Linked DNA regions of Homo sapiens: region 1 is linked to region 2. Evidence: fine-mapped expression QTL. Tissue or cell type: monocytes after R848. Region 2 holds a variant in brackets; the other region holds the start of a gene. All regions are shown on one strand. Distances are between the middles of the regions.

The links. PIP is the estimated chance that this variant, and not a neighbour inherited with it, causes the effect.
Region 1: it holds the start of INTS1, and the variant in region 2 is fine-mapped to the expression of INTS1 in monocytes after R848 (Quach 2016, PIP 0.90).

The regions. Positions count from the first base shown.
Region 1 is chr7:1,501,561-1,506,700 of GRCh38, reverse strand. INTS1 (integrator complex subunit 1) reads left to right here and starts at 2,312. Exons shown (of 48, transcript NM_001080453.3): 1 at 2,312-2,378; 2 at 2,700-2,798; 3 at 3,510-3,800. The coding sequence starts at 2,741. RefSeq lists enhancers at 28-623, 809-998, 624-1,220 and a silencer at 2,107-2,666.
Region 2 is chr7:1,469,819-1,474,958 of GRCh38, reverse strand. It overlaps INTS1 (integrator complex subunit 1), which reads left to right. Exons shown (of 48, transcript NM_001080453.3): 40 at 121-254; 41 at 599-791; 42 at 1,266-1,393; 43 at 1,775-1,887; 44 at 2,573-2,686; 45 at 3,318-3,388; 46 at 3,735-3,826; 47 at 4,004-4,113; 48 at 4,267-4,682. The coding sequence ends at 4,382. Among named protein-coding and RNA genes, the nearest start is that of MICALL2-DT, 12 kb to the right of the region's middle. RefSeq lists a silencer at 459-658 and an enhancer at 4,433-5,128. The variant G/A (reference allele first, on the strand shown) is at 2,937.

The sequences.
Region 1 (5,140 bases), 32 kb before region 2:
AGGGGGAGGAGGGGAGGAGGGGGAGGAGGAGAAGAAGGGGAACGAAGGGGAGGGGGGAGGGGGAGGAGGGGGAGGGGAAGGAGGGGAGGGGGAGGGGGAGGAGGAGAGGAGGGGGGAGGGGGAGGAGGGGGAGAAGAAGGAAGGGGAGGAGGGGGAGGAGGAGGGGGAGGGGGAGGGGGAGGGGGAGGAGGAGGTAGTTGTTCTCAAGGTCGACCCTGAGGTTCTGGCCTGGGCCCGGGTGAGGGCATTTGCCGAAGGCACAGGCCCCGCATGCAGGGGCGGTGATGCTGGTCAGAGGATGAGGAGAGGCAGGTGGCGGGGCAGAGGAAGCTCTGTGCAGGGTGCTCCCATTCAGGTGACAGGAGGAGGAAGCATTACCCCATCGGATCTCCCCTCCCCTTAGAGAGTTACCCTGAGGGACAGATTGAGAAACTGTAGAGGGATGAAGCCGCACAGCCCCCGCCTGGCGTCCGGCAGGGATCCGCGCCTGACCGGCCTCTCCTCCCATGGGCACCACGGACGTCTCCTTCCGGACTCGCTGCCCACACAGCGCAGGGTGCAGGGCCCTGGAGCCCTTGGGGTCCTGCGGGGACCCAGCTGGTGCCCACAGGAGTGGAAAGAGACCGTGGCGGGTCACACAGCAGTTCTCAGGCTGCAGCCTGGGGCCATGAGCCTCACTGAGGCCACAGTCAAATGGCCACACCCAACTTCAGGGGCACAGGGAGACCAGCTCTGCCTTGCGGTCCCTGGATGAGGAGATGGGACACACCGGGCAGGCGGTGCTCAGGACTCCCTCGGTGGCGGGGCAGCGTTCGAGTCAGTGCCCTGCTGGGAACAGATCTCCAAGATGTGGTTAAGTGGCAAAAGCCAGGTGCAGAAAAGAGGAGCCGTGCGCTACCTGCAGGGTGACAAGGCAGAGGGAGGCACACGGGTGGCTGCCTGAACGCACACGGAAAAGCCGGGAACACAGGCACAAATCAGAACACAGGCTGACTCCAGGGGAGGGGACCAGCTGCTCAGGGGTCAGGGGAGACCTTCGACCCTTTGACTGGATGATTCCCCCACCTTTTATTTTTATTTTTTTTTAGACAGGGTCTCGCTCTGTCGGCCGGCTGCAGCGTAGTGGCACCATCATAGCTTACTGCAGCCTTGACCTCCCAAGCTGAAGAGATCCTCCTACCTCAGCCTCCTCAGTAGCTGGGACCGTAGGCATGCACCACCATGCCTGGCTAATTTATTCTTGATTTTTGTTTGTAGAGATAGGGTCTCACTATGTTGCCCAGGCTGGTCTCAGACTCCCACTTTGGCCTCCCAAAGGGCTGGGATTAGAGGTTCATGCCACCATGCCCAGCTAATTTTTATTTTTTTGTAGAGATGGGGGTCTTGCTATGTTGCTCAGGCTGGTCTCGAACTCAACCGATCCTCCTGCCTTGGTCTCCCAAAGTGCTGAGATTACAGGCATGAGCATCACACCTGGCAACTGTATGATCTTTTGTGTCTTTTGAGTTTTGTTCCCATCAGTGTTTCCATTAAAAAAAAAAAAAAAAAGGCGTGGGGGCGGGGCGGGCGCAGTAATTCCAGCACTTTGGGAGGCCAAGGCGGGCGGACCACCTGAGGTCAGGAGTTCGAGACCAGCCTGGCCAACATGGTGAAACCCCGTCTCTACTAAAAACACAAAAAAATTAGCCAGACATGGTGGCGGGCGCCTGTAATCCCAGCTACTCGGGAGACTGAGGCAGGAGAATCGCTTGAACCTGGGAGGTGGAGGTTGCAATAAGCCGAGGTCGCGCCACTGCATTCCAGCCTGGGCGACAGAGCGAGACTCCGTGCCAAAAAAAAAAAGAAAAAAGAAAAGGGTGAACTTTGTGGAACACGAGTTCTATCTCAATAAAGCTATTATTATTATTATTATTATTATTTGAGACAGGGTCTCTCCCCGGGAGCCCCCCGGGCTGCGCCCCCTCGCCAGTGCCTGCGCCCCGGCCGCCCCCGCTCTCCGGGACGTGCAGAACCTGCCACTTGACTCATCCGCGGATCCCTGACGCCACTCCTCCCCGCCGTGCGTCCTGGAGTGCGTCCCTTCGCAACGCCAGCACCACCTGTGAATGGAGAGGCCAGCGCCTGCCCCGCGCCGCCGACCCACCTGGACCGGACCACATGCGCGCGGCGCCGGCCAGCCCGCCTCCCGCCGCCATGGGGCGCTGCAGGCATCAGGCCGGCGCCGCGGGCCTCTCGCGCCTCCTTCTGGGCCCGCTTCCCGCCGCACTGTTTTCCTTCCGGTTGTTCCGGAAGTCGGGTCCTCGAGGGCGGTGAGATCGGTTTCCGATTCCGGGGTGGCCGGGTGGCGGCGGCGGCGCTCCGGTCGCGATGGGCCAGAGGTAAGTGAGCCGCGGCCTGGGCGCTTCCTCATTGCCGGGCGAGCGCCTGGTTCTCCCGGCTACCGCTCCCGGCCTCTGGGCCGTCCCTTCTGGTTCTGCCGCCTCCAGCCCGGCGTCCGCGTCGCCTGCTGCCGCCCGACTGAGCCGCTCCCGGGCGGCTGGGAGGCGGGGTCCCTGCAGCTCCTGCAGCATCGCCCCGCCGGGCGGGCGCGGGACCACTGTCCCCGGGTCCCAGGCCCAAGCCCCGTGCGGCAAGGGAGCGAATGAGCGAGCGAACGAGCGAATGAGTGAAGGAATGACCGCACGCTGGCTCCTCCGCAGGTGACGCCGCAGCCGCCGGGAGCCGCGAGGGACGGGGCAGGATGAACCGGGCCAAGCCCACCACGGTGCGCCGGCCCAGCGCCGCGGCCAAACCCTCAGGTGCGTCTCCCTCCTCGCTCTGCAGCCCGGGGGTCTTTGGGGGTCTTTGGGGGTCTTTGGGGATCTCAGCTGCCGCGGATCCTGCGTTGGGCTTGGTTGTTCCGCAGCCGCGGCTGTTTCCAGGAATTCGGTCTGGAAACACTGCTCTCGGTCCTCAGCGGCTCTGAGAGTCCCTGGGAGGCTTGGGACAGTGGCGACTTCCTTCGGGACCCCGGTGATCTCGTTTCAGGCTGAGCTGCAAGGCGGCCGACAGTAGCGGAAGGTCTCCCCAGCCAGGAGGCGGGAGGCAGCACAGTGTAGCGTAGCACGGGGTCTGCGGCTGAACTGTCGGCTCAGATCCTCCGGACTTTGCCACTCGCCTGCTGTGTGACGCTGGGCACGTCGCTTAACCTCTCTGTGTCCCTTTCTCTCTTGTAAAGTTAGAGTAATAGCACCTATTGCGGAAACTCGGGGCGGGGGTTACTAAGCACACTAATTTGGATAGACCAGAGATGGCCTGGTTTGTGGTTAGCGCTACGTGACTGTCCACCATCACCTGTGCGTATCCTGCTGGTCCCAGCTCTGCTGTAGGCTGCTGAGTGAGCTCTGGCTTCTTCCTTGCCTCCTCTGACCCTTGTTTAATCCCCTCTGACATAACAGGAGGTTAGAGTCAGTCTTTTTCCATCTTGGGTGTTGCAAATGTGCCCGGTTTTCTCTCTCCTTTCTCTGCAGGGCACCCTCCCCCAGGAGACTTCATTGCTCTGGGCTCAAAGGGTCAGGCCAATGAATCGAAAACGGCGTCCACCCTGCTGAAGCCAGCCCCTTCCGGCCTGCCTTCTGAGCGCAAGCGGGATGCGGCGGCCGCGTTGTCCAGTGCCTCGGCCCTCACCGGTCTCACCAAACGCCCCAAACTCTCCTCCACACCCCCTCTGAGTGCCCTGGGGCGCCTGGCTGAGGCTGCAGTGGCAGAAAAACGAGCCATTTCTCCGTCGATTAAAGAGCCATCTGTGGTGCCAATTGAAGGTAATGAGTCTGTGGACATCCCCCGAGAACACCCCTCAGCTCATGCCGTCCATCAGGTGTTCAGGGAAGGCCCCCTCCAGGCCTAGTGCTGCCCGTATGGCCGAGGTCCTTTGGGAGAGCGGATGTTTGTGGCTTGTTCTTGGAAGTGCTTCTCACGTAGATGCCCTTATCCCGTGTGTGCATCTGCGTCCTGCACTGCCAGTGGCTGCCCTTTGAGAACCGGGTCACTCCCTTATTGAGTTGTTTGTCTCATGTGTCTGTTGGACGCCCCCTTTGTGACGGGCACTGTCTGAGCCCTGGGGGTAAACCGGGCGTGACGACACCCCAGGTGTCTGTTCTCAAGGTTGCCCATCCTGGTGCGTTCCTCTCTCAACCTGAGCGGAGGCGATGTGTACTTGGTTCCTCCTTCCCTCCTGGTTACCAACAGAGAAGAGTTGATCCCCTCCCTGTTTTCAGTTGAAAAGCAGCAGAACAGTAAGGACATCAACGGGGGAATGTAAGCTTCACCACTGTCCCGTTCTCGCAGAAATGCCTTTAACTGTGTGCCTAGAATCGCCCCTGCCCCTCTGCGCCATTTTCCCAACGACCATTTCTCAAGGCTCCGTGACTCCCTGGGAGTCGCTCTGGCAGCTATCGCACCAGCCCCAGCAAGCCTCATGGTCTGCAGTGTTTTGTTTCTGTGGGAGCATCTCTTTTGGGTAATTTCTTTGTAGGAGTCAAAAAGAACAAGTGTCCTGATGACTTTGGTAGTGAGGTGTCTGTTCAAGCCGCGCCACCTCTGGTTACTGAGTTTTGTGCCAGACAGGACCCAGGGGACTTGTGGGCTGTGGCCTTGCCCTCAGGGAGGGACCAGGCTGCTGCAGTGCAAGCCTGTGAGTGAGTCCCCGACGGCCCTGGAAGGGAGGAGGCCTGGCAGGGAGTTGCAGTATGGGCTTGGGCCTGGAAGCACAGGCGATGAAACCGGGGCAGGCAGGAAAGGGAGATGCCAAGCAGAGAATGGACTGTGCCCAGGGAATGGAGGCCTGGCCTGGCCTGGGCAGCACACGCTCATGAGAGCTGAGGCTGGGCGCTGTGGGCAGTGTTTGTGCTGGACTCAGTTGGCATCAGGGAGCCCTGGGGGCAAACGGCCCAGGATGGCACAGCTGGGGGACTGCTTTAGGAGGTCGAGCCTCAGACCTCCCATGAGGCGTGTCCCTGGGCAGCTGGTGCCGGTGGGGATTGAAGACAGAGACCACAGGCCTCATCCTGGCCCGGGCTCTCGGCCGCCGGCGGCTCGGTGCTTTATTTATCTTTAGCACTACCTCCTGTAGAAAGGAGGTTTTGAAGATGAGAGGAGACGT
Region 2 (5,140 bases):
GTTCCTCTGCTCATGGCGTGCCACGCGGTGGATCACGGCCACAGCTGGCGGCCAGGCTGAGTGTGGGTGGGCAAGTGAGGGGAGCCAGCGGCCCCGGCCTCAGAGCGCCCCTCCCTGCAGCTGGACGGACTCATCCACCGCTTCATCACGCTCCTTGCGGACACCAGCGACTCCCGGGCGTTGGAGAACCGAGGGGCGGATGCCAGCATGGCCTGCCGGAAGCTGGCGGTGGCGCACCCGCTGCTGCTGCTCAGGTGCTGTCCCAGAAGCCCTGCCCTCGCCAGACACTGGTTTAACCAGGGGGGTCTGCGGCTCTCCAGCCTGGGCAACAAGAGCAAAACTCCAAAAACAACAAAAAAAAGCATGTTCCCATGGGCTGAGCTTGACCGGGGGAAGTCAGGACTGAGCTGGGCCTCAGGTGGGAGGAGCTGGGTGGGCCTCAGAGAGGGGCGATCTCATCCCCACCTCCTTAGGGCAGGAGGGTGGTTGGGGGGCAGCACGGGGTCTGGCTCCCGGGGCAGGCAGTGGGGCCTTCCTGGGGACGTGCGCCAGGTGAGCCCGCCGGCCGGGGCTGACTGGGCCCTCACCGCGCCCGCAGGCACCTGCCCATGATCGCGGCGCTCCTGCACGGCCGCACCCACCTCAACTTCCAGGAGTTCCGGCAGCAGAACCACCTGAGCTGCTTCCTGCACGTGCTGGGCCTGCTGGAGCTGCTGCAGCCGCACGTGTTCCGCAGCGAGCACCAGGGGGCGCTGTGGGACTGCCTTCTGTCCTTCATCCGCCTGCTGCTGGTGTGTGCTCCCGCCGCCCGCCCTCGCGCTCCCTTCCACTCCCTCTGCTCTGGCCCAGGCCTGCCTCACCCACTCGCGGAGGGACTGGGAGGACCTCTGCAGCCAGGGCCCAGGCCAGGCCACCTGCCCTGGGGACCAGCTCCCACCCTGGGAAGCCCCTGCCTGCTGCCCCTCACGTGCCTGGGGGGCCCACGTCCTTCAGAAGCCCAGCCCAGACCCTCCGTGCTGTTCTCTGCGTGTCGCTTGTGCTACCTCGAGCCCCTCATCCATCTGGGCACATGCCCCAGACAGCCATGTCCACACCCTGACAGGCCATGCCGGCCACCCTTGGGCCTGTGACGCCCCAGTGGTTGGCAGAGGGGGCTCGTTGGCTGTGGGGTCCATGCCCTGAGGCTCTGGGAGCAGATGGGAGCACAGGCTCTGTTTTGGCCCTGCGGGGCAGAGCAGCTCGAGGGTGCCGCTTTTGCTTTGCAGAATTACAGGAAGTCCTCCCGCCATCTGGCTGCCTTCATCAACAAGTTTGTGCAGTTCATCCATAAGTACATTACCTACAATGCCCCAGCAGCCATCTCCTTCCTGCAGAAGCACGCCGACCCGCTCCAGTGAGTGCCCACGGGCTGCAGGGAAGCCTCGGGCCTCCGGCGAGGGTCCAGCGGGGTCTGGAGGGTGTTCCTGGGAAGGCCGTGTCGTGTCAGATATGCTGCTCCTGAGGCCGGGGAGGGCTGCTGAGCGTGGTGCTCATCCCAGGGCGCAGAGGCCGCCCCACCCTGTGCCGAAGCCGTCTGAACCCACCCCTGCAGCTCTCTGGCTCTCTGTCCCGTTCCACGCACATGTGGCTTCCCCGCCCGGCCCTCCCTCTGAGCGTCCTGGCCTCTCCTGCATGCCTGTGTCCACACGCTCCCATGCCACCCTAGTTTGACCCCTGACCCAGCCTTCCTCCTGCCAGCGTCTTCCTCCCAGGTGAAAGCATCTTCTCTCCCCAGCGACCTGTCCTTCGACAACAGTGACCTGGTGATGCTGAAATCCCTCCTTGCAGGGCTCAGCCTGCCCAGCAGGGACGACAGGACCGACCGAGGCCTGGACGAAGAGGGCGAGGGTGAGTGGGGCTGCCAGGGGCTGCTGGAAGCAGCTGCGGAACAGTCCTACAGGGCCTGGTTTTCCCAGCGCACAGCCAGCCCTGGGCCGTCCGAGGCGTCCCGATGGGGGCTGTGTGAGCCTGGGACCTTGCTGGCTGGCCCCTGACCCACCTCAAGGGGACGAAGCACTGACTGGTGCCTGACAGAGCATCAGCACACCTGCCCCCCGGCACATCGCCCCGCCCCGGCAAATGGCCCTCCCCACCCCCCCGTCCCTGGCACATCCACCATCCACCAGTGCTTGTCCGAGGTGTCCCTCCCCAGGAAGCCTCCCCTGGTCCTACTGGGCAAGGCTTGTCCTTGGTTTTTCCCTGCCTGAGGTGACACGGCACCGCAGCACGTCTCTCCTGTGCCGCCGGAAGAGCGCCAGGCCCGGGTCCCAAGGGGCCATCCCGTCTTGTGCCCAGTGGGTCCTGGCCCACATTGCGAGAAACCCAGCAGGGAGAGACTCGCAGAGGTGCATGCGCCGGATCCAAAGGCAGCTCCCGGCTCCTGGCTCCACCCCATTTGTGGAGCGCTGCTGTGTGCAGGCACCTTGGGAGCCTGGGCAGTGGCCGCCGTGCTCTCGGGAGGGCAGGTCCTGGTGCCTCAGTGTGGCACGTCCTGCCGCTCCCGCCCTCCTGCAGCACTGCCACTGTCTTCCAGAGGAGAGCTCAGCCGGCTCCTTGCCCCTGGTCAGCGTCTCCCTGTTCACCCCTCTGACCGCGGCCGAGATGGCCCCCTACATGAAACGGCTTTCCCGGGGCCAAACGGTGGAGGGTGAGTCAGGCCCTGCTTCACCCACGCCAGGTCAGCGCCCTGGGTCCCATGGGGCTGCGGGCAGCAGCCAGTAGCCATTTGGGCACTGACTTTGGCGTGAGCCTGGCCCACGCTGGGCTGTGGGTGGGTGGGCTGTTCCTCACAGTGGGGAGCACCCCCAGAGAGGGCCTTAGAAACTCAGGGGCCCAGGGGAGCTGGAGGTGGCTGCTCTGCTTCAGGCACAGCAAAAAGCAGGGGAGCCCCCTAAGGT[G/A]GTGGGGGTACAGCAGGAAGAGGTCAGGCGGGTGGGCAAGACCAGCGGGTGGGCAGTACCGGTGGCCGCTGTCAGAGGACAGCCAAGGCTGAGCGGCCCGGATGGAGTCGGGCCGTGGGGACACTTGGTGCTAAGAGCACCCTGGATATGGGGCTGCCGTGAGGGGTCAACCCCTCTCCTTGGAGGCCACTAGTAGGGGCAGGGCCGGGTATTTGTGGAGCTTGGGGGCAGGTGACTGCCTGGGGCGTCACTGGGCTCATGCTTTCCAGTGCTTTCTGTCCTGTGGTGCTCGGGGCCTTGCCCCCTCTGGGTGGCTGGGGTGGGGTGGGCAGAGGTCTGCCTGGGCCCTTCAGTTCTGGTCTGGCCCTCTCTCTGTGTCAGATCTGCTGGAGGTTCTGAGTGACATAGACGAGATGTCCCGGCGGAGACCCGAGATCCTGAGCTTCTTCTCGGTGAGCTGGATGGGGCTGAGGGAGAGCTGGGAGGAGCCACTCCCTTGGGGAACCCCAGCAGGGCCACCACCCCAACATGGCGTGCCCGCGCTGAGCCCCAGGGAGTCCTCTGAGGCTGGGCTTCGGGTGGGGGCCCCAGCCCAGGTGTTCACAGTCAAGCCGCCGCCAGAGCAGGCCTGCCTTCAGCCCCGGGCTGGGACCGGCCAGTGGCACGTGCGTCCTGCCTTCTGGATAGGGGCCTAGGGTCCCTGCCGTTGCCGCCAACCATCACGAGACCAAGAGGTGAAGGGGCCTTGATGGGGGCTGGACCCCTTGGTCACACACCTCCCACCTTTCCCCCGGTCAGACCAACCTGCAGCGGCTGATGAGCTCGGCCGAGGAGTGTTGCCGCAACCTCGCCTTCAGCCTGGCCCTGCGCTCCATGCAGAACAGCCCCAGGTGAGGCCACCGCCGGCCTCTGTCCCGCCGCCACCGCTGGGCCCTGCTAACCCAGGTCACCGCTTGACCCGCCTGGTGGCCAGACCAGGCTTCCAGGCGGCTCAGCTCGCCCTGTCGGGTGGGGGTCTGGCGTGGGCACAGGGTGGAGGTTCCCACTGAAGTGTGTGGGTCTTTCAGCATTGCAGCCGCTTTCCTGCCCACGTTCATGTACTGCCTGGGCAGCCAGGACTTTGAGGTGGTGCAGACGGCCCTCCGGAACCTGCCTGAGTACGCTCTCCTGTGCCAAGGTGAGGACTGGCCCCCCGCCCAGGGCCCTGGCAGCCCTCGGGGAGGCCGGAGGTGCGTCCCCCGAGGGCTGGCTCTTGGGAGTCCCGAGGTCTGGTCACTGCGGCCAGGATGTTGTGGCCAGCGTGACGTGCAGGGCCCCGTTTCCCCCACAGAGCACGCGGCTGTGCTGCTCCACCGGGCCTTCCTGGTGGGCATGTACGGCCAGATGGACCCCAGCGCGCAGATCTCCGAGGCCCTGAGGATCCTGCATATGGAGGCCGTGATGTGAGCCTGTGGCAGCCGACCCCCCTCCAAGCCCCGGCCCGTCCCGTCCCCGGGGATCCTCGAGGCAAAGCCCAGGAAGCGTGGGCGTTGCTGGTCTGTCCGAGGAGGTGAGGGCGCCGAGCCCTGAGGCCAGGCAGGCCCAGGAGCAATACTCCGAGCCCTGGGGTGGCTCCGGGCCGGCCGCTGGCATCAGGGGCCGTCCAGCAAGCCCTCATTCACCTTCTGGGCCACAGCCCTGCCGCGGAGCGGCGGATCCCCCCGGGCATGGCCTGGGCTGGTTTTGAATGAAACGACCTGAACTGTCTGTGTGCTCTCTGGTGTCCCATGTCGCCCTCTGGCCAGTGAGAGCCTCAAGGACCCTGGCCTTGGCTTCCCAGCCCCACAGTGCAGGGAGTTGAGCAGGGTCCGGGGTGGTGGAGACCAGGGCCAGGCTGGGCTCTCCCTTGGGCCAGCAGTTCCCGCAGGTGTTGAGGGTCGGGGGATGCTGCCCACTTGGCCGCCCCCGCCCCACGTCATGGTCTCCCTGTCGAGTGCCGGCCCTGGGCCCTGCCGGGCCTCAAGTCCTCTGCCCACGGGGTCGGCCTCTGTTGAGTGAGTCCGGCCTTGTCAGGCTGCGTGGGGGACTGGCCCAGCTGACTGGTCTCTCTCTCCTGCACTAAAAGGATCAACAAGGCCCTGAGAGCCTCAACTGTGGGCGTCCCTCTGTGGGAGCTGAGTTGGGGTCCCATTCCAGAAGAGTCCGAGTAGCCGGTGGTGCTGCTC